Homo sapiens: one gene and its partners. The protein of the gene in region 6 interacts with the protein of the main gene of each other region in a biochemical or structural test. Each region holds a gene or a part of one and is shown on either strand. Other genes may lie near its edges. The genes, in order: GOLIM4, GALNT6, C1GALT1, FAM20B, MAN1B1 and GOLPH3.

Region 1 (3,500 bases), on a different chromosome or scaffold from region 6:
TACGTTCAAATAAAACAGAAAGAGAGGAACAAGTGGGATTAACCATTTCTAATTAAAAGGAAGAATGGTACAAAGGCCAATGTTTCCCAGCATGTTCCCCAAAACAAACAAACAGATGACAGGAAAGTAAAGGATCATATAGTCAAGAAATCAAAGCCTACAGCAGTTCCCAAACAAGTGACTGAAATGCCCTTCCTCCCACCCCATGCACATTTGCAGGCCTTTGTACACTTGCTTTCTTGCTCTCTCCTGGATAGTCTCTTGCTCTCTCATATGTTTCTGCTCTCAAGTATTAGCCTTTTCCTGAAAATATTTCAGGACTAGGTTCCCTGGAGCATATTTTCAGAAATCTTGATGCAAGGAATGCCAGGGAAAGGTGTTCTGCCACATCTCAGTGCAAGTTAAGTGGAAAAGCTGTTTCCAGCAAAAGGGCTTTAAGTAGCTAGCAGGATGACTTTCTTGATGATTAGCAAGGACATGGGTCCTCCTTTTAATCAGGGCTCATGTGACATAGCACAGACCGACTGTTATAAACATGGTAGTTGATCTATTAGCAAGAGATGACAGGGCAGCTAAAATAAGCTGTAAAAATCATCTACGCATACACGCAGGAACAGACTCACTAAACATTTGCTTGCTTCACTTGTAGGCAGGGCCAAGGATCTAGCCCACCCAGCTGAACTAGAGGTCTCAGTCTTTTTTGGTAAACACAAACAACAATGCTGGTTATTAGATGTCTACCTACTTATATTATAAATTTTCTGTACCATTGCATACCTGAACAACTCTTCATGTCTCAGACCACATATCCTTATCCATATATTTATTAAAATGGTCACTAGACTGCTAAGAGATTACAGAGAGTCACACAAATACCTAACACTCTAGCAGACTGCTCAACATGCTCAGGAAGGGTTAGTTTCCTTTCTCTGGTCCCATCTCCAACTTCCACACTTGCCTTTTATTCCTCCTAGCTTTCAGAGTTACTACATATTTCAGTGTCTCTCAGTTTTGCTTTTCTAGGTTTTAGTTTTATTAATCTAAAAGTCATCAGAAAAAAAAAATCCTGGTTTTGTTTTTTTTTTTCCCCCAGAGCAACTTTTAAACCAGCTCATCACATACACGTACACCATGGTTTACAGTTAAAAACACTGCCCATATATAATTATGCAAGCCATTTTCCTTCTGGGCTGAGGATATAACAGAAATATCTGGGGCTGAAGGCTGGCATCAGGCAAGTTTTCAACTCTCTTTCCCACCTTATGAGTTTACATGTGTCAGGGGCAGAAGAGAGGATACTTACATCTGCCTCAGATTCTGGGTCGGCTTCTCGGGGTCCTTGTTCACGAGGCTCATGTCTATTACCTGGATCTCCTTCTGCTTCATCTTGGTGCTGGTTGTCTCTTTCATAGGCTAGCAAATCAAAGGAACTAAAATCAGCCCAAAATGAATCAAACAGGATTTCCCTTTCAACTCAAAGAAAAGCCACCAGTGGACTTTTCTACAGACTACAATACCTCCACCTCTGTTAACTCAACATAAGGCCTATGTCCTGGCTTTTCTGAATAAGGTTATGTTCTCTTCACAGACTGTGTGTCTAGAGAGATGATATGGGTCAGACACTTTTCTTCTAAAATAAATATTTTTCACAGGAGCTGTAATTTTTCCCCCATATGCAAGAAAACAACAACAATCAAAACTCTCTCAATAAAAGAAAGCCCAGTTGATTGGACACTGCTGAAGAAATCAACTAATGTTTGATAATATCAGAGGAAGTAGCTGGGCTCCAAAAGAAGAAATTGATAGTTTCAGGAAATGCAAGGAAGAACTGCCCCATCTGTGGAGCTCAGAAACAAATATAGCCCATCACATGTTTTCTGATGTCATCACAGTAATGATGATGACCGCCACAGCCCAGAAACAGCACACATTCATACTCAGACATTTACTTGCTGCTTTTTGAAAAAATATTTAGATAAAGAGAATTGTATGAGCACAAAAAGAGAAGAACAAATCACTTTTTAAAACAAGTAAGATAGAAGAGGAAAGTTTAAGTATATGGAGTGTACTAAGCCTAGAGAAAATGATGATACGGGGTAACTTACCATCAGCCTTCAAGTGCACAAAGGGGTTTACTACATAGAGAAGAGGACAAGCCATTCTCTAGTCTTACTGATATGAGAACAAAAAAGCTTAAAGTGCCACATGGCGGACATAAGGAAAACAATTTCTTGACTGTAAGAGCTGTAAGATATCACAACGGGCTATTGAGGGAGGTTGTATGTAATCACTTTCTTTCTGACTTTTTAGAAAAAGATACACATCTAAGTGTTAGTGGTGCCAGAGAGACAGTAAGTTACATTCTGGTTCTATTATAACAGTAAGCAATATTTGATAAATTACATATTAAGTGCTTATCATAAATGAAAGCTACTATTGACTTAATTTGAAAACATTTTAAGGCAATGATGTGAGGACTTCCAAGGTAAGGAGAAAATGCAGATGTTTCCCAAAGCATAATAATCCTATAATAATTTGTCAGAAATATTATAAATATTTAGTATATAAAAAGCTTAAACTACAGGGAAAATGATAGAGAGGAAACAGATTATCTTGAGCATTTTTCACTACCAGCATGTACTGTTTAAGAGGATTAAGAAAAAGACATGATTCACAAACCTCCTTTGCACTTAGGTATGCATACAGCTCATTGATGTTATATAATATTGGCTCACTGATAATATACAATGTTATCAAGTAATTTATTAAAACATTCATCATCTAGGAAGTCTCACCACCTCCTTCCTCTCCTTGGATTCCCTGGTCCTCTGCTCCCTGAACGATATCATTATCCATAGCATCATAATGAGCTTGCTGCCTACAAGAGACACAAACATGATAAATCCAGTGGGACAAAATTCAGAGGCACAGTTTGACATAGGTCATTTATCTTTAAAGACAGTAATAAGTAATGTTTCTCAACATTTTTAAGAAGCCATGAAAAATTTTTAAAAACCTCTTATGTATGCAATTAGGTATAATAAAAATTCCAGATACACTTTCAAAAGGTATCTTAAAAAGATAAAATATCTTTTAAAGATAAAATAAAATAAAGTTGGCACAAAGCCTGCAAGGCTATTTGGAGACCTAACCTACCACTTTTGAGCAGAAAAAAAATATTATTTTTAAAATTAAATATTTGGTATTTAATTTTCAAGTAGCTGTCCTGCCTTGGCTATTTGAGCAATATGAGCCCCTTAACTTCATGAATCACAAATGCACAAAACTGTTTTTAATTTGCGTATGAAAACTGGAGCAGGGGCTGTCTTCGTTCATTAAGGAAGGGGAAGGCTACCGGAGCTGCTCCTGGTGCTGCGGCCGGCCCTCCTCAAGCTCAGCCTGCCTCTGCAGGGCCATCTCTCTTGCCACCTGCTGCTGCTGCTGTTCCTGCTGCCGTAGTAAGTGCCCCTGCAGCCTCTGCTGGTGCAAAGCTTCCTGGT
Region 2 (3,500 bases), on a different chromosome or scaffold from region 6:
CAGAACTTTCTGTGCAGAGTTCTGGACACATAAGCTCACTGGTTAAGCACTAGACATCAATGGCAAGGGACCTGGGCACAAATTCCAGTTCTTCCTCTTCTAGTAGTAGCACCTACCTCCTAGGGTTGTTACAAGGATTATGCTCCTTCCCCACAAAATTCATGGACAAAGCTTAGCAGTCTCTGCACATGGTAAGTTCCCACAAAGTGTTAGTTTTGATCATTAGCAGCTGTGTGACCCTTGGGTAATTTACTTAATCCCTCTAAGCCTCAATTTCCTCATCTATAAAGTGGGGGCAACTAATACCTAACTCACAGGGTTGTGGGGAGGATTAAATCAGATAATGTAGGTAAAATGTTTGGCAGAGCACCTGTCACACTAAGCCCTCAATAAATGGTATCAACTATTTCTATTATTATGATAAATCCCTGCTTCACTTCCCAGCAGTTATCCTCAAGCACCTGGCCCTTGGCCAAAGCCACGTTCATTACTCCCTGCATGTTTTGCTTAAAAATAACTCTGGTTGTACTATTTAATGCTATTGTTTAAACGCACAAGCTCCTGCCTGTGGAGAGGCCTGGTGTCTGAGACCTTGGGAGTATGTGGCCATCGTGATCTCAAGTGGGGAGGTGGATTCATTCTGGACTGGGGTACAAATGTGGCTTCTTTTATAACATCAGATTCAGCAGCACCGTCAAAAATCAAACAAAAGAAATCTCTTTGAGCATCTATTTTGTATTAACTATTGTCTAGGAGATAGGAGAGATTTGTTTATTCCACCAGTATTTACTGAATAACTGCCTCTACCAGGTACTCTGCAAGAGGCGGGGGACACAGAGAAGTGCAAGGCCAGCCCTCAAGGATCCTACAGTCAATTGGGGGCATCAGATTTTAAACAGAGATTACCCTGTGAGAAGCAGAATCAAAGAGGTACCCTTGAGTGCTGAAGGAGCCGGCATGCAGGAAACTCAGCAAATGGGGGAGGGCAACATCTGTGAAGAAATCTCACGGGGGCAGAAATGGGCCGAACACTAACTGGCGAGTAGGAGTCAGCGAGGCGAGGTGAGCACATTTCAGGCAGAAGGCACAGTACCTGCAATGGTCTAGAGGTGGGAGACAGAAGAGCCAGTCACAGAACTGTAAGCAGTCTGGTATGGCAGGAGTAGCAGAAATTGGGCCTACAGAGGTGGCTGAAACCAAGTCCTAAGGGCCTTGTTCATCATGCTGAGGAGCATTTGCCCTTGACCCAAGGCATGGGGAGTAATAAAGCGTTAAGCTGGGAGCCCAGCATTACAGGAAGAGCAATATGACAGCGGTGGAGGGTATCTTGGAAAGGGACCTGCTTGGCAGCTGGATGACCCATTCGGAGTCTGACCCAGGAGAGTTAGTAGCAGTGTGGATGGAAGAGGGAGGGTATGGTGCCTAGGAAGACCCCCTTGGGTGATGGGGTGGGACAGTTTACCCCGTCTGGTACACAGAGGGACACAAAGGCTCAATTCCTTTCCCCAAGGGATTTGAAAATCTTATTGGAGAACGAGAACTGATAGCACTGACCAGGTGAAGGAAGCACCTGACCAGGGGAGATTCAGGAGCAGGAAAAGGACCTTTCACTGAATACTCTTTTGTACTTTGAACCCTGACTATATTACTTATTCAAAAATGAATAAAATTAAAGCAGAATAGCACAGACAGTAAGAGCTAAGCTGAGAGAGGTAGAGTTCCCTGTGGGTTTGAGGAAGGCTTCGGGGAGGAAATGGGGATTCAGTGTAGCAGGAGTTTCTTGTCACAGAGGTTGAGCTATGCTGGGGCTAGCACAGGGGGATTTGCTTGAGCTAGACACCTCATCAGTTCTGGAACTGTCCCGGCTAAGCCCACACAGAGGCCTGCAGAATGGGGGAGTGTTTGCCATGACAGCTTTGAACCGTCCTGCAGGCTTCGTCTTCCCTGCTACTTTCCATCTACCTTCCCACTCCAGCAAGAAAGAGGGAGCACAGTTAGAAACAAAGGCATGGTAAGATTGTAGTTACTAACTGTTGCCAGTGCTCAAGACTCACCCCCTCCAGGAAGGCCTCCTGACTGATTCACTCAGAATCACCTAGGTTACTCCAACTCTTTCATCCTGGCACTGCCTCGTGGTCCCTCACAGCAGGGCCTGTTTTTGCTTCTTTTATTTTCCCTGGAGAAAGAAATATAGGGTTAAATTGAGCTCTTCCTAGGCATCTAATCTCTCAATCCCATCTGGCTGCCTGAAGCTTTCTCTCTCAAACCTACAGTTCCTCAAGGTACTAACCACATCCTGAACCGAAATGAGACACCTGGGATTAGCCTTGGTGGTGAGGCACTCATTCTCTAGTTTGTTTGCTTAGCATGAGGGCAACAGGAAGAGTCCCTTAGAAGAGACACAGAATCTAGTGCAAGCCACAGGACTTTGGGGTTAAGGATTTCTGCTCCCTGTGTAGGAGATGATTCCCAGAAGTATGGTTAGCAAGGTCGTGGAGGTCGCCCCTCCACCAGCCTTGGAGAAAGAATAGCTGCTATTCTTTGCTATTGTTTCAAGTACAAAGCTTCACGAGATCCGCCCCTGGTGTCTTGTATATCTCCCTCACCTTTGGGCTCCCACACCTGGCCTCCTGCTTTCCTGGCAAGTGTGCCCGCAGCCCCCATCCACTCATTTCCCTCTCGCTGTGGCTCAGCACTTCTTCCCAAGTCTTTTTCCTCCAGCTACCCTTGGGCCTGCAACTCTTTGGACCATCCTTGGCTTTGATCCCGAGATGATGCCAGAAATCCTCTCTGAAAAGCCTGCCTAGATTGAACAAATGGGATTTGCTTCCCTGGCCCCACCGGCCAGAACACAAACTTACCTTCTCTCACTGGTGTAAGGAACTGAGGCTTTACCCAGCCCAGCTTGTATCAAACTGCTGATTACAATCCACTGTGATATTATAAAATAAATTCAGAGTGTTGCAAATTAGCATTCAAAAATTTCTTTAAAAGACCAGTTAGGACCAGGCACAGTGGCTCACACCTGAAATCCCAGCACTTTGGGAGGCCATGGTGGGCAGATCACTTTAGGCCAGGAGTTCAAGACCAACCTGGCCAACATGGTGAAACCCCTTCTCTACTAAAAATACAAAAATTAGCCAGGCATGGTGGCATGTGCCTGTAATCCCAACTACTCAGGAGACAGAGGCAGGAGAGTTGATTGAACCTAGGAGCTGGAGGTTGCAGTAAGCAGAAATAGCACCACCGTACTCCAGCCTGGGTGACAGAGCAAGACTCTGTCTCAAAAAAAAAAAAAAAAAAAAGACCAATTAGCAAAAAGAGACCAGTTAGCTGGGTGTGGTGGCATAGGCCTGTAATCTCAGCTACTTGAGAGGCTGATGCTGGAGGATTGCTTGAGCCCAGGAGGTTGAGGCTGTAGTTAGTTATGATCATGCCACTGCACTACAACCTAGGCAATAGAGCGAGACCCTGTCTCAAAAAATAAAAATAAATAAATT
Region 3 (3,500 bases), on a different chromosome or scaffold from region 6:
GGTTTACTTTATTAAGCAGTAAACATAAGCAGTATTTTAGTCTAAATTTTGTCATATTCCTGTCTGTATCTGTTAATTAAAATGGGCTATATATTCCAGATATTAAAAATAATTCTTGGTTTGCCTCAAGAGAAGGGAATTGCTAAAACTCAGATTTATTTAGGGAATAAGATATTAATTTTGAATTCGTTTTTAAGTAGAAATAGTTCAGAACCCATGATTTGGGGAAGGGCATAACTATTCAGATTTGATTTGTTTCTGAAAATGTTTTTCTAGGTTCAGTTTTGTTATATGTGTGTCTTTGGTTTTTGTTACTTGTTTTGGTCATAGCTTTTGCTTAAGTCTTGTTTTCCTAGAGAAACTTGAGGTGTATGTAAGTTTCGATTTATATTTTTATAATTAGTTAATAGAACTAATCTTTTTTTTCCTCAAGAGGCACAAAGAACAAGGAAGTTAAAAACCAAGGATGCGTTCTAAAGACTTCATTTTCTCCTAGCCTCCTACCTCTAACCAGATTTTCTCAGTTGAGTTATTTATGTGTCCCTTAAGTGTTGGTTCTCTCCAAGTTTCTGTCCTTTAGCTGTTTGTCTGTGTGACATCATTAACCCGCATAATTTTAATTTCCTTCTATTTCTTACTGTCTTTAGCCCAGTTCCAGACATTGTGAGGTGACATTAACACAATGCAAAATACGGTTTGACAGAAAATAATATAAGTAGCTTGAAAACAATTGGAATTCTGGGATGCAGAGGGTCCACTATTCAGTTTTTTCTCTTCTCTTCTCAGTAGTAAATTATTTCTTCACCACCTCTCAAGCAGAGGTTGAATGGTGAGATTTCAAAGCCTGGTTCCATTTTATCAACTAGCAAACATAAACATACTATTACAAAGTATGTCGTGTTTTGTGATTGTTTATGTAACAGTAATTCAGCTCTGAGCAAGTGCTCTGTGTTCCTACAGAACAGTTTGGTCACTGTGTATTTGCTCTGTAGCATAGCCACATGTCTTTAGGTGATCAATTGGAGGCAGAGTTCCCTACTAATAGTAAGCCGTACGAGGCCTCACTGCAGGCATGTGTATTAGATACATACTTGTCCAGCTCAGTGGCCTACAAAATGTGGGGTATGCTAAAAGTTTGTCTACTCCCTTCAGACTCAGCATGTGTAAATTGAGTCTCCTTTTCCTTCCTACTCCTAGAAGTTGCTCTTCCTCCTCTATTCTTTCTTTTATATGGCTCATTACCATCTGTCTGTGCCAGAAATTAAGAAATCATGGTAGGTGCTTGCCTTCACATGCTAGCCAATTCGATTTGTCAGTACATTCTAACAGTGCTGCTACTTTACCATTTTTCATCTCTTTTCCTCTCAGTCCTCAGTGCATTTCCGATTCAGGCCTTCAGCTATACCCATGTACCTGCACTCAACCAAACTTCACCATTCCTTTTGGTGAACTTATAACCTATTTTCTGTATTATGTCTTTATTTTTTAATCTTCCTCTTTGTTCTACCTAGGTCCCTATCTACTGCTCTGTAGGATTTATTAGCCACTATTTTCCTTCAGCACATTGAATCCTTTGTTCATACCTCTATAATAACATCTCTTAGTATTTAGCAATTATTGGTTTGTGTGTCAGGCTCAGGCTCCCTGAATGGACTGAATTCCTCTGCAGCAGGAAATGTGTCTTACTCATTTTTTTCATCTCCTATGCCAGCCCATGCCCAGTACAAAGCAATTAGTGAATGAAAAATTATTTATCAAGTTCAGCGGTGGACAAACCTGTCTTACCTGAATGAAACAGATTGGGGATTCCTGCATTCACTGTTCTATCCATTCAAGGTTTGGTATATTTGTATAGCCAAGAGATTGGGCTCCTCAAGGATATGAGATGTCTATGCTTTCTGACTGAAAGTAGGGTGATTTTGTCTGCTGTTGTCCTTTTGGATTGTGAATCTTGATACTCAGAGGGACATGAGAATTTTTATTTTTTATTTTTTTTGAGATGGAGTCTCGCTCTGTCACCCAGGCTGGACTGCAGTGGTGGGATCTCGGCTCACTGCAACCTCCGCCTCCCGGGTTCAAGCAATTCTCCTGCCTTAGCCTCCCGAGTAGCTGGGATTACAGGCGCCCACCACTACGCTTGGCTAATTTTTTGTATCTTTTTTAGTAGAGACAGGGTTTCACCATGTTGGCCAGGCTGGTCTCGAACTCCTGACCTCGTGATCTACCCGCCTCAGCCTCCCAAAGTGCTGGGATTACAGGCCTGAGCCACTGTGCCCAGCTGGGACATGAGAATATTTTTATGTTCCACCCAGCTTTTCCCATTATTCCCTCTCAGTTGGTTAACTAGTATATTATATGCCTCCATTGTTAATTTCTCATAGGACTAAGCTTCTGTAACTTGCTGTTTGACCTTAATTTTAAGCATATGCTTCGTCAGGATACTGCCCAGAACATTGCTACTGAAAGTCAGTTCATAGACTCATTCTGGTCCTATAACTAAAGAATGTCTGCTTATTTGGGAGTAAGCAGAAACTTTTATTGTAATTGGAGTAATTTTGTCTGAAGCTAAAAATAAAAATTTAGGACTTGTTTTATATTTTAGTTTTATTTTTCTTATAATTCATTTTTATCCTATTTACACAGTGTAGACCTCTTTTAGAAATAAAAATTGGCCTTTCACCACAGATAGCTTGGGAAGTACTCATCTAGAATCTCATCATTGAGCTCTTCCTCTGTACCGGTGCTACTCAAAATGCGGTCCTGGCCTGACACTTTGTCAGCTGTTTGTCTGCACAAGATAATGAGGTTACACTAGGATGTAAATCAGTTTTACGCTCACTGCTTACTTAAATGGACAGTTTTAAGTTTCAGTTTTAAGCTCACTGCTTAGTTAAGTGGACATTTTGATTGGTTGGTTCTGATAGTAGGCCTTTTTCAAAGTAATGTGTTGCTTTCTGTTCTGGTATAAGCTCCTTATTTCTTTGCAAACCTGTAGTTTAAAGAGCACTGCTCTAGACCATCTTGGAATTCCCATGTCTACCATTGTTCTCTTCTGTTTTTGATTGGTGGATTTACATTTTGGAATGAGGTATGTGACTATCAGAAAGTAATCTCAACTCCTGTGCTTTGACCTTTTACCACCTCAGGGTACTTGTAGAAATTCTTAATAGTGGATTATTGTGAACTTCAAAAATGAACTGCCACTTCAGCAGCATGTCTTTCCTGCTCTTCAGAAACTCGTTCAGAGCAGTGAGAAATTTCTGTCAGTAATCTATTAAAAACTGGCTGCTTTCTTTTATGAAGTGCCAAGCAGAGACTATTTAAGGCAGCATTTAGCATGCCTATGAAGCACCAGGAGAACTTATTAAAATGCTGATTCTGAGTCAGTAGGTCTGGGCCTAAGATTATGCATTTCTAACAGGCTCCCAGGTGATGCTGCTGCTTTTAATCAGTAAACTACAGTTTGAGACGAATTTAGATTATAATGTCAACTCTTACTA
Region 4 (3,500 bases), on a different chromosome or scaffold from region 6:
TGATTGGCCCATGGGTGGCCATGGGTGGGCCCAGAAAAAGCACCATAAGTTCTCACTGTGGTTTGCGGACTCTTAACCAGAACCGACAGCCCAGCCCCCATGCTTCAGGCCATCCCTGGCTTGAAGGTGGGGCTTCACTGGGGACCCATCCCTTTCCGCCCAGGAGCCTGCCTCCTGCCACCATTCATGTCATCCACAGTGCCCAAGCTGTTTGTACCAAGGGATGCCTGCAGGCCTACACTGAGCCATCCTCAGTCCTCCCTTGGCCTCCCTCCCATGCTCATTGGTGCCCAAAGTCCGGAGTGGGCTGAGACAGCAGGGGCCTGGTGTATCAGCACTGCCCCAACCACATATATACAGGTCACGACATCACCTGGGCTTTGCCACAATTTTGCTCCACCCCAGAGTGGGTGCGGGGAGTGGGGAGAGGCCAGGCAGCAGGAGTGGCATTTTGGAGCCTGTGGGTGTAGCTGTGGCTGGGTGGCTGCAGCTGTACCCAGGAACACGGGGCCCCTGCTCCACCATCTTGGAAGAGGGCAGGGCTCCCACCTGTTCCCAGCTCCTTCCAGCTCCGTGGAGTGTGCAGCCCTGGCCATGCCTCTCCCACTGCAGCTGGTGTCTTCGCAGCAGCTGCTCCAGTTGGGCCACTGCTGCCATCATTAGGTCCTTCTCCAGATTAGTTAATTTTAAATTATTGAACCTTCTTGAGCTCAAGAATAGAAAGCCTAAAAGGGTGAGTCATATATTAGAGGCTTACAAAAGATTCAGGGGTGGAAGGACAGAATTTTTGATCAAATTTTGCTTTGTACTTGGGCTTGCAGGAACTGTGGAAGGTGCATCAGTGAAGAAATGGACCAATGTGTATAATCATGGAATCTCCTTGCTAACCATCACCACCAGCTCTCCTTAATACATGAGCAAGAGTGGGTCAGGGGAGAAGGAAAAGAGGTCAACATGAAGCTAAAGCAGCGAGTCGTGCTGTTAGCAATTCTCCTTGTCATTTTTATCTTCACCAAAGTTTTCCTGATTGACAACTTAGATACATCAGCTGCCAACCGGGAGGACCAGAGGGCCTTTCACCGAATGATGACTGGCTTGCGGGTGGAGCTGGCACCCAAGCTGGACCATACCTTGCAGTCTCCCTGGGAGATTGCAGCCCAGTGGGTGGTTCCCCGGGAAGTGTACCCTGAAGAGACACCAGAGCTGGGGGCAGTCATGCATGCCATGGCCACCAAGAAAATCATTAAAGCTGATGTGGGTTATAAAGGGACACAGCTGAAAGCCTTACTGATACTTGAAGGAGGCCAGAAAGTTGTTTTCAAACCTAAGCGGTAAGTTTTGATCTTGGAAGCTGCATGTGCTAGTTGGTTGATTCATTTAACTTGGGATTTATATAAGATTTATTTTGTCATCTTCTCTTGGAAGTCTCTTCAGTAAAATAAGAGGGGTAGACTAGATCTCTAAAGTCTTTTCTAGCACTTAACATGAATCTACCTTTATAGTATCATATAGAATAGTCTTCCTGCCCTAAAAATCCTCTGTGTTCTACCTACTCATTTTTCCCTCTCTGCCCCAGAACACCTGGTAACCCACTGGTCTTTTTACTATCTCCGTAGTTTTGCCTTTTCCTGAATGTAATATAGTTGCAATCACAGAATGTAAGCCCTTTCAGATTGGCTTCTTTCACTTAGTAAAGTGCATTTAAGGTTTATACATATCTTTTTGTGGCATGATAGTTCATTTGTTTTTATCACTGAATAATATTCCATTGTCTAGATGTACCACAGCTTAATTATCCATTCACTTACTGAAGGACATCTTGGTTGCTTCCAAGTTTGGGGCAATTGTGAATAAAGCTGCTATAAACATCCATGTGCAGGTTTTTGTGTGGACATAAATTTTCAACTCATTTGGATAGATACCAGAAGCATAATTGCTGGACCACATGGTAAGAGTACGTTTCATTTTGTAAAAAACTGCTAAACTATCTTCCAAAGTAGCTGTACCATTTTGTGTTTCTACCAGCAATGCATGAGAATTCCTGTTGCTCCACATCCTCACCAGGGTTTGGCATCAGTGTTTCAGATCATAGCTGTTCTAATAGATCTCTTATTTCTTTCACCTGTTTTAAGTAAAGAATTGGGCCATTTTAGTTACCTTAGTTAACTAAATATGTATGTTGTTCATGATCCCTTTGGACTTCCTAGGGATCTACAGAGATAATTTGTGTGACAATTCTGTGATACAGTTAATTATTTTTATTTATTTATTTATTTCTCTACACAAGACAGCTTGGAGGGTATAGTTAATTTTCTAAAAATGTTTTCTGAGTGTATGAATCTGAATTAGGTTAACATCATGATGGTGATTTGTATTCTTTTGCCGGGAGTTAGTTACCAATGAATATTCTCAAAGTTTGTAATGTCTGAAATCTTTTGGGTACTAAACATTTTTTTCATTCCTCAGTAGAGCTTTTGAAAAAATTATAACATGACTTTAGATTTCTTTCTGGAGTGGGAGAAGAAATGTAGGGAAAAGATGGACAAAATTCAACTCCCTTTCTTACCCAACTATTAGTAAATGAAAGGCAGTCAGAGCATGAATGTATAGGGAGCCCAGAAATGGAAGGGATCACTGTTGGTCTGGAACTGGGAAATATATGTCAGTGATGTGGAAATTAGGAAAGTTAAAACATTTGGTAGACTTTCAGAGAATAAAAATTTGACTGGGGCTGGGCGTGATGGCTCATGCCTGTAATCCCAGCACTTGGGGAGGCCGAGGTGGGTGGATCACTTGAGCCTGGGTGATGTAGTGAGACTCTGTCTCTATAAAAAAATAAAAAATTAGCTGGGCGTGGTGGTGTGCACCTATAGTCTCAGCTACTTGGAAGGCTGAGGTGGGAGGATGGGAAGATTGCTTGAGTGCGAGAGTTTGAGGCCGCAGCAAGCCATGCTCGTGCCACTGCCCTCCAGCCTGGGTGACAGAGTGAGACCTGTCTCAAAAAAAAAAACCAAAAAACAAAAAAAAACCGTGGTTATGTGGGCCTGGGATCTAATTTCTGTAATGCACACTATTTGCCAGGGATTACACTAAGTACTTTTGTATCTCTTAATCCTTTAAACCCTTATACGAAGGTTTAACCTTTTTGGACAATTTCAGTTCTTATTTCCTGAATAAGAAACTGAGGTTCAGAGAGTGTAACTAACTTGACAAGGTCACCTCACATCAATCAGTGGTACAGAAGTTTGAACCCATATTTGTTAGAGTTGTAAACAGCTTGTATTCTGCCACACACATGGAATTCTCTAAGTTTGTTTGCTTCCCATAAGTGATGACGTGGAGCACTCATCATCAAAAATCGCATTTAGCTTTGAAGTTTGGTCTTTGACTTCTTGGCCTGAGAGATAAGCAGCATAAACAGAGTAATGGAAAAAGGCAAACTAAAGACAAAAATAAAATTTGTATATAAAGAGATGGCCGGGCACGGTGGCTCACGCCTG
Region 5 (3,500 bases), on a different chromosome or scaffold from region 6:
GCCTGCAACAGCATGAATGTGCAACACCACCGACCTGCACGCCTGCAACAGCATGAATGTGTAACACTACCGACCTGCATGCCTGCAACAGCATGAATGTGTGTAACACCACTGACCTGCACGCCTGCAAGTGTGAATGTGTGTAACACCACCGACCTGCAAGCCTGCAACAGTGTGAATGTGTGTAACACCAACCTGCACACCTGCAACAGTGTGAATGTAACACCACCGACCTGCACGCCTGCAACAGCATGTGTGTAACACCACGGACCTGCACGCCTGCAACAGTGTGAATGTGTGTAACACCACCGACCTGCACGCCTGCAAGTGTGAATGTGTGTAACACCGACCTGCACGCCTGCAACAGCATGAATGTGTGTAACACCACCGACCCGCACGCCTGCAAGTGTGAATGTGTGTAACACCAACCTGCACGCCTGCAACAGCGTGAATGTAACACCACCGGCCTGCACGCCTGCAATAGCGTGAATGTGTGTACCACTGACCTGCACGCCTGCAACAGCGTTGTGTGTAACACCACCGACCTGCATGCCTGCACCAGCGTGAATGTAACACCACCGACCTGCACGCCTGCAACAGCATGAATGTAACACCACTGACCTGCACGTCTGCAACAGCGTGAAAATGTGTAACACCACCGACCTGCACGCCTGCAACAGCATGAATGTACCACCGACCTGCACGCCTGCAACAGCATGTGTGTAACACCGACCTGCACGCCTGCAACACCATGAATGTGTGTAACACCACCGACCTGCACGCCTGCAACAGTGTGAATGTGTGTACCACCGACCTGCACGCCTGCAACAGTGTGAATGTAACACCACCGACCTGCACGCCTGCAACAGCATGTGTGTAACACCACCGACCTGCACGCCTGCAAGTGTGAATGTGTGTAACACCAACCTGCACGCCTGCAACAGTGTGAATGTAACACCACCGACCTGCACGCCTGCAACAGTATGAATGTAAGACCACCGACCTGCACGCCTGCAAAAGCGTGAATGTGTGTAACACCACCGACCTGCATGCCTGCAACAGCGTGAATGTGTGTAACACCACTGACCTGCACGCCTGCAACAGCATGAATGTAACACCACCGACCTGCACGCCTGCAACAGTGTGAATGTGTGTAACACCACCGACCTGCACGCCTGCAACAGCATGAATGTGTGTAACACCACCGACCTGCACGCCTGCAAGTGTGAATGTAACACCACCGACCTGCACGCCTGCAACAGCATGAATGTGTGTAACAGCACCGACCTGCATGTCTGCAACAGTGTGAATGTGTGTAACACCACCGACCTGCACGCCAGCAACAGCGTGAATGTAACACCACCGACCTGCACGCTTGCAACAGCGTGAATGTAACAGCACCGACCTGCACATCTGCAACAGCGTGAATGTGTGTAACACCACCGACCTGCACGCCTGCAACAGCGTGAATGTGTGTAACACTGACCTGCACGCCTGCAACAGAATGAATGTGTGTAACACCACCGACCTGCACGCCTGCAACAGTGTGAATGTAACACCACCAACCTGCACGCCTGCAACAGCGTGTGTAACAGCACTGACCTGCACGTCTGCAACAGCGTGAATGTAACACCACCGACCTGCACGCCTGCAACAGCGTGAATGTGTAACACCACCGACCTGCACGCCTGCAACAGTGAATGTGTGTAACACCACCGACCTATACTCCTGCAACAGCATGAATGTGTGTACCACCACCGACCTGCACACCTGCAACAGCACGTGTAACACCACCGACCTGTACTCCTGCAACAGCAGGAATGTGTGTAACAGCACCGACCTGCACGCCTGCAACAGCGTGAATGTAACACCACCGACCTGCACGCCTGCAACAGCATGTAACACCACCGACCTGTACTCCTGCAACAGCATGTGTGTAACAGCACCAACCTGCACGCCTGCAACAGCATGAATGTGTGTAACACCACCGACCTGTACTCCTGCAACAGCATGTGTGTAACACCACTGACCTGTACGCCTGCAACAGCCCAAATGTGTGTAACACCACCGACCTGCACGCCTGCAACAGTGTGAATGTGTGTAACACCACCGACCTGCACGCCTGCAACAGCGTGAATGTAACACCACCGACCACGCCTGGAAATGGTTAAGGTGGTGCGTTTTGTGTGTTTTATCACAGTAAAAAACCTGAAAACACACATGCACATACACACACACACACAGTACCTGCTGTGATGAGCAAAAGGTAGCTCCAGGGGAGGCGCATCCAGCCAGAAAGCCTGCCCCCTTACCTGAAACTTCTTATCCCCTGTGAGACGGGAGAGCTCCCGGAACTCCAGCTGAATGCTGGTCACCTCGGCCACAGTGCTGTCGGAGGTCCACCGTGGCGGGTGGGCAACTCCAGTACCGATGTTCACATCCGAGTAAGGAATCTTGGATGGTGTTCTGAAGGCAGGCATTAGCCGATTTCCAAAATCCTCCTGGTATATGAGCAGAGTAGAGAACCAACGTTCAGGTCACCCAGAGGCCTCGTCTACACCCTTTCATGCAGTTCAGTGGAGACACTGAAGGCTCTCTGGGGTCAACACAGCAGCAAGGAAACGGGCATCACTCTGCACTGAGTGAATGTCTCTACAAGGCCAGTGGTGATCAAAGTGGCTTCATCAGCTCACGAATATGAGCTCAGAAACAGACTCCAGTGCATTTGAAGAGGAAACAGGAAGACAGTCACGTCCCCACAAGTCCACTAAAGGGGTAACTGCTTGAATGCGAGTCCACCATCTCCCTGCAGGACACCCCAAGACACTTACAGCTTTCCTCAGGAAGAGGCTGTCCCCAGACAGGTGGTAGGCACTCAGGAGCCCCCCCAGGATGCGGATCGTGCTCTCAAACAGGTTGACGTCCACGTCCTTTTCAAAGTGTAACTTCTTCGACACCCACTTCCTGGCTTCCTCAAATTCTATGACATAAAACAGTAAAGGATGCAGAGACAAATGGATGGCTCCAACGTTTTCCTATTATCTATCCATCTTCAAAATACATTTGGCTGGGCGTGGTGGCTCATGCCTGTAATCCCAGCACTTTGGGAGGCTGAGGCAAGTGGATTGCTTGAGCCCAGGAGTTAGAGACCAGCCTGGACAACATGGGAAAACCCCATCTCTACTAAAAACACAAAAATTAGCTGAGTATGGTGGCGCATGCCTGTGGTCCCAACTACTGGGGAGGGTGAGGCATGAGAATAGCTTGAACCCGGGAGGCGAAGGCTGCAGTGAACTGAGATCGTGCCACTGCACTCCAGCCTGGGCCACACCACTAGACTCTGTCTCCAAAAAACCCACGTTTGAAACCAGGAGGCCAAGGTTGCAATGAGCCGAGATTGCGCCATTGCACTCCAGCCCAGGAGACAGTGAAAGACTCCATCTCAAAAACAAAAAAACAAAAACAAAAAACCAAACCCATGTCTGGGGCGTTATCGTTCC
Region 6 (3,500 bases):
AAATTTTAATATGATGGAATATACATATTTGTTTGTACACTGTAAGTGTGCCTTTTTATACATAAGAGGAGTAAGATTCTTTTTTTTTTTTTGAGACGGAGTCTCACTCTGTTGCCCAGGCTGGAGTGCAGTGGCGCGATATGGGCTCACTGCAAGCTCCGCCTCCCGGGTTCACGCCATTCTCCTGCCTCAGCCTCCCGAGTAGCTGGGACTACAGGAGCCCGCCAGCACGCCAAGCTAATTTCTTTGTATTTTTTTAGTACAGACAGGCTTTCACCATGTTAGCCAGGATGGTCTCCATCTCCTGACCTCGTGATCCACCCGCCTCAACTCCCAAAGTGTTGGGATTACAGGGGTGAGCTACCGCGCCCGGCCAAGAGTACGATTCTTTCACTACCACGCCCAGAACCAAGTTTCACTCCCTTGGCAATGACATTACCACACTGGGAATACATAATTTACTTAATAAAGCCAGTAATCTACTTAATTAATACAGTAAATGTATTAAGTAAATTTATTTAATAAGTAAATTTACTTTAATAAATAATATTAGCTTACTTAATAAGGTAAATTATGTATTCTTTTTTTTTTTTTTTTTTTGAGATAGTCTTGCTCTGTTGCCCAGGCTGGAGTGCAGTGGCATGATCTTAGCTCACTGTAACCTCCACCTCCTGGGTTCATGTGATTCTCCTGCCTCAGCCTCCCGAGTAGCTGGGATTTCAGGTGCATACCACCCTGCCTGGCTAATTTTTGTATTTTTAGTAGAGATGGAGTTTCACCATGTTGGCCAGGCTGGTCGCTAACTCCCTGCCTCAGGTAATCCCCTTGCCTCAGCCTCCCAAAGTGCTGGGATTATAGGCATGAGCCACCACACCTGCCAGGGTTAGGTAAATTATGTATTCTTAATGTGAGTAATGTCATTGTACTGAGTGACTGCCAAATGCCAGCCTGAAATATATGACATCAAAAAATTATAGAACAGGCCAGGCAGGGTGGCTCATGTCTGTAATCCCAGCACTTTGGGAGGCCAACGTGGGTGGATCACATGAGGTCATGAGTTTGAGACCAGCCTGGCCAACATGGCGAAACCTTGTCTCTACTAAAAATACAAAAAGTACCCCTGTGTGGTGGTGAGTGCCTGTAATCCCAGCTACTCAGAAGGTTGAGGCAGGAGAATCGCTTGAACCCAGGAGGCAGAGGTTGAAGTGAGCATAGATTGCACCACTGCACTCCAGCCTGGGTAACAGAGCAAGACTCTGTCTCAGAAGAGAAAAAAAAAAAATTCTAGAACAGCAACATAATTTAGTTTTGTAGTTTACTATATGAGCTTTGACACACAGAACTAAAATGAATGAACTTGAAGACAGACATGTTCTTCAGTGAATTTGTACTTAGTAAAGGGCCTCTCACAGAGCATGTGCTCAGTAAACATTTGATGAATGGATGAAAACTGTTAGAATCCTAGATGTGTGGTAATCCTAGATTAGAAGCAGTTATGCTGCTTCTAAATGTCATTTAGCAAGATGAGAACCTCTAGACAGGCCACAGAAATGTGGACTTCGTATCTCAAATCACTTAAAATTCAACTCGCTACAACCCTGGAAACCTGGAATTTTCTGTAGTTAATTTTCAGGAAGGAAAAAGAAAAGACGAAAACCTTAAGCTAAAACAAACAGTTCCTGTTTGGTAATTTTTAACCTTCCTGATTCACTAAATGCTTTGAGTATCTAATGAAAGTTCTGTCCTCTTTCCCCAAGAAAACACACAACTGCAGAGAATTCACAAAGTTTCTCAGCTCTGTTCACTCCAATTTAAGAACTTCTCCATTAAAGGAATATGTAAATCAAATACAATGCATTAAGTTTAAAAATAAGTAAATTTTTTTGTTGTTGTTTAAAATGTTATTCTTAAAAGTGACCAGAAACATCCTTGTTGGCAATACACTGTACTTTAATATTAGTTGTGTTTTTGCAGATGAGAGGTTTACCAAACGGGAAGAGAAATAGCCTATGTTCTAAATATATTTGTAATACCTAAGTCAAAAACCTCAAAATGTACTAGATTACATTGTAATACTGTACAATGCTATTAAAACAGGTTGCAGTCTTCCCAGCTTTGATAAGAGAAACCTGAAGCCAAAAACATCAATTTCAAAATGAAGCCAGGTTTCCACTTTTGGCACTTGTCAGGACACTTACTAAAAAGCAGCAGCATGGCCGGGCACAGTGGCTCATGCCCAGACCTTTGGGAAGGCGAGGTGGGCGGATCACTTGAGGTCAAGAGTTCGAGACCAGCCTGGCCAACATGGTGAAACCCCATCTCTACTAAAAATACAAAAATTAGCTGGGCATGGTGGCAGGCGCCTGTAATCCTAGCTACTTGGGAGGCTGAGGCAGGAGAATCACTTGAACCCAGGAGGCGGAGTTGCAGTGGGCCAAGACGGTGCCATTGCACTTCAGCCCGAGTGATAAAAGCAAGACTCCATCTTAAAAAAAAAAAAAAAGCAGGAGGAGGACAAGCACTGTCTTTTTGTGCTGCTTCAAAGGGAGACTCACAACATGAAGATAAATCCTCTAAACAAAGACTACAGCATAGTTTTATACTATTTAATCTGATTAATGGCAGTAGAAAAGTTATGCTGTTAGAAGGGGGGGGGAGTTTGCAAAGACATAAAAAAGTGTACAGCCAAAAGCTTAACATTATGTACCAGAACAAGCATAATGCCTGATGCCTCCAGGGTATTTAAGATTTACATGTAAGATGATATTATAAAAGTGTATTTCTTTAAATATCAAAAAAATCCCCCAAATATTTCAAAATCTATCAAAATAACTTCAAAATACAATTCTTTTGTTTTGTTTTGTCTTTTGAGATGGAGTTCCACTCTTGTCGCCCAGGCTGGAGTGCAGTGGCGCAATCTTGGCTCACTGCAACCTCCGCCTCTCAGGTTCAAGTGATTCTCCTGCCTCAGCCTCCCGAGTAGCTGGGATTACAGGTGCTCGCCACCATGTCTGGCTAATTTTTATATTTTTAATAGAGACAGGGGTTCACCATGTTGGCCAGGCTTGTCTTGAACTCCTGACCTCAGGTGATCCATCCACCTCGGCTTCCCAAAGTACTGGGATTACAGGTGTGAGCCACCGCACCCAGCCTTCAAAATACAATTCTAAAACGTAATTCAAATGCTCCATACAAGAACTCTCAGGTAGTCCAAAATTAACAAATATCAAATATTAGTATAACTTATGAGATGAGTTAGTGAATATTTTGACCATATTGTAAAAGAATCCCAAAGCACTAAAAAGTAATTTCAACAGTATAAAATCTTGTTGAAAAGGTATAATAAGCAGACCAGGCGTGGTGGCTCACACCTGTAATCCCAGAACTTTGGGAGGCCAAGGCGGGAAGATTGCTTGAGGCCAGGAGTTCGAGACTAGGCAACATAGTGAGACCACGTCTCTACAAAAAAAAATTTTTTTTTTTAATTAGCTGGGCATGAT

Evidence for each region.
Region 1: the proteins of GOLPH3 (region 6) and GOLIM4 form a complex in vitro, tested with the Homo sapiens proteins (one study listed by BioGRID).
Region 2: the proteins of GOLPH3 (region 6) and GALNT6 form a complex in vitro, tested with the Homo sapiens proteins (one study listed by BioGRID).
Region 3: the proteins of GOLPH3 (region 6) and C1GALT1 form a complex in vitro, tested with the Homo sapiens proteins (one study listed by BioGRID).
Region 4: the proteins of GOLPH3 (region 6) and FAM20B form a complex in vitro, tested with the Homo sapiens proteins (one study listed by BioGRID).
Region 5: the proteins of GOLPH3 (region 6) and MAN1B1 form a complex in vitro, tested with the Homo sapiens proteins (one study listed by BioGRID).

Annotation. Positions count from the first base shown.
Region 1 is NC_000003.12:168,026,425-168,029,924, forward strand, and holds part of GOLIM4 (Golgi integral membrane protein 4), read right to left. Parts: coding exon 3,356-3,500; intron 2,879-3,355; coding exon 2,799-2,878; coding exon of another isoform or gene 2,796-2,798; intron 1,414-2,795; coding exon 1,304-1,413; intron 1-1,303. UniProt on the Homo sapiens protein: Plays a role in endosome to Golgi protein trafficking; mediates protein transport along the late endosome-bypass pathway from the early endosome to the Golgi.
Region 2 is NC_000012.12:51,381,407-51,384,906, forward strand, and holds part of GALNT6 (polypeptide N-acetylgalactosaminyltransferase 6), read right to left. Parts: intron 2,177-3,500; exon of another isoform or gene 2,055-2,176; intron 1,104-2,054; exon of another isoform or gene 907-1,103; intron 1-906. UniProt on the Homo sapiens protein: Catalyzes the initial reaction in O-linked oligosaccharide biosynthesis, the transfer of an N-acetyl-D-galactosamine residue to a serine or threonine residue on the protein receptor. May participate in synthesis of oncofetal fibronectin.
Region 3 is NC_000007.14:7,234,544-7,238,043, forward strand, and holds part of C1GALT1 (glycoprotein-N-acetylgalactosamine 3-beta-galactosyltransferase 1), read left to right. Parts: intron 1-18; exon of another isoform or gene 19-1,836; intron 1,837-1,842; exon of another isoform or gene 1,843-3,088; intron 3,089-3,500. UniProt on the Homo sapiens protein: Glycosyltransferase that generates the core 1 O-glycan Gal-beta1-3GalNAc-alpha1-Ser/Thr (T antigen), which is a precursor for many extended O-glycans in glycoproteins.
Region 4 is NC_000001.11:179,042,894-179,046,393, forward strand, and holds part of FAM20B (glycosaminoglycan xylosylkinase), read left to right. Parts: intron 1-821; 5' UTR 822-954; coding exon 955-1,331; intron 1,332-1,879; coding exon of another isoform or gene 1,880-1,948; intron 1,949-3,500. UniProt on the Homo sapiens protein: Responsible for the 2-O-phosphorylation of xylose in the glycosaminoglycan-protein linkage region of proteoglycans thereby regulating the amount of mature GAG chains.
Region 5 is NC_000009.12:137,100,485-137,103,984, reverse strand, and holds part of MAN1B1 (endoplasmic reticulum mannosyl-oligosaccharide 1,2-alpha-mannosidase), read right to left. Parts: intron 2,981-3,500; coding exon 2,832-2,980; intron 2,502-2,831; coding exon 2,313-2,501; intron 2,307-2,312; exon of another isoform or gene 2,229-2,306; coding exon of another isoform or gene 1-2,228. Other genes in the region: uncharacterized protein LOC124902313, read right to left, coding at 1-1,209, 1,246-2,228. UniProt on the Homo sapiens protein: Involved in glycoprotein quality control targeting of misfolded glycoproteins for degradation.
Region 6 is NC_000005.10:32,164,320-32,167,819, forward strand, and holds part of GOLPH3 (Golgi phosphoprotein 3), read right to left. Parts: intron 1-3,500. UniProt on the Homo sapiens protein: Phosphatidylinositol-4-phosphate-binding protein that links Golgi membranes to the cytoskeleton and may participate in the tensile force required for vesicle budding from the Golgi.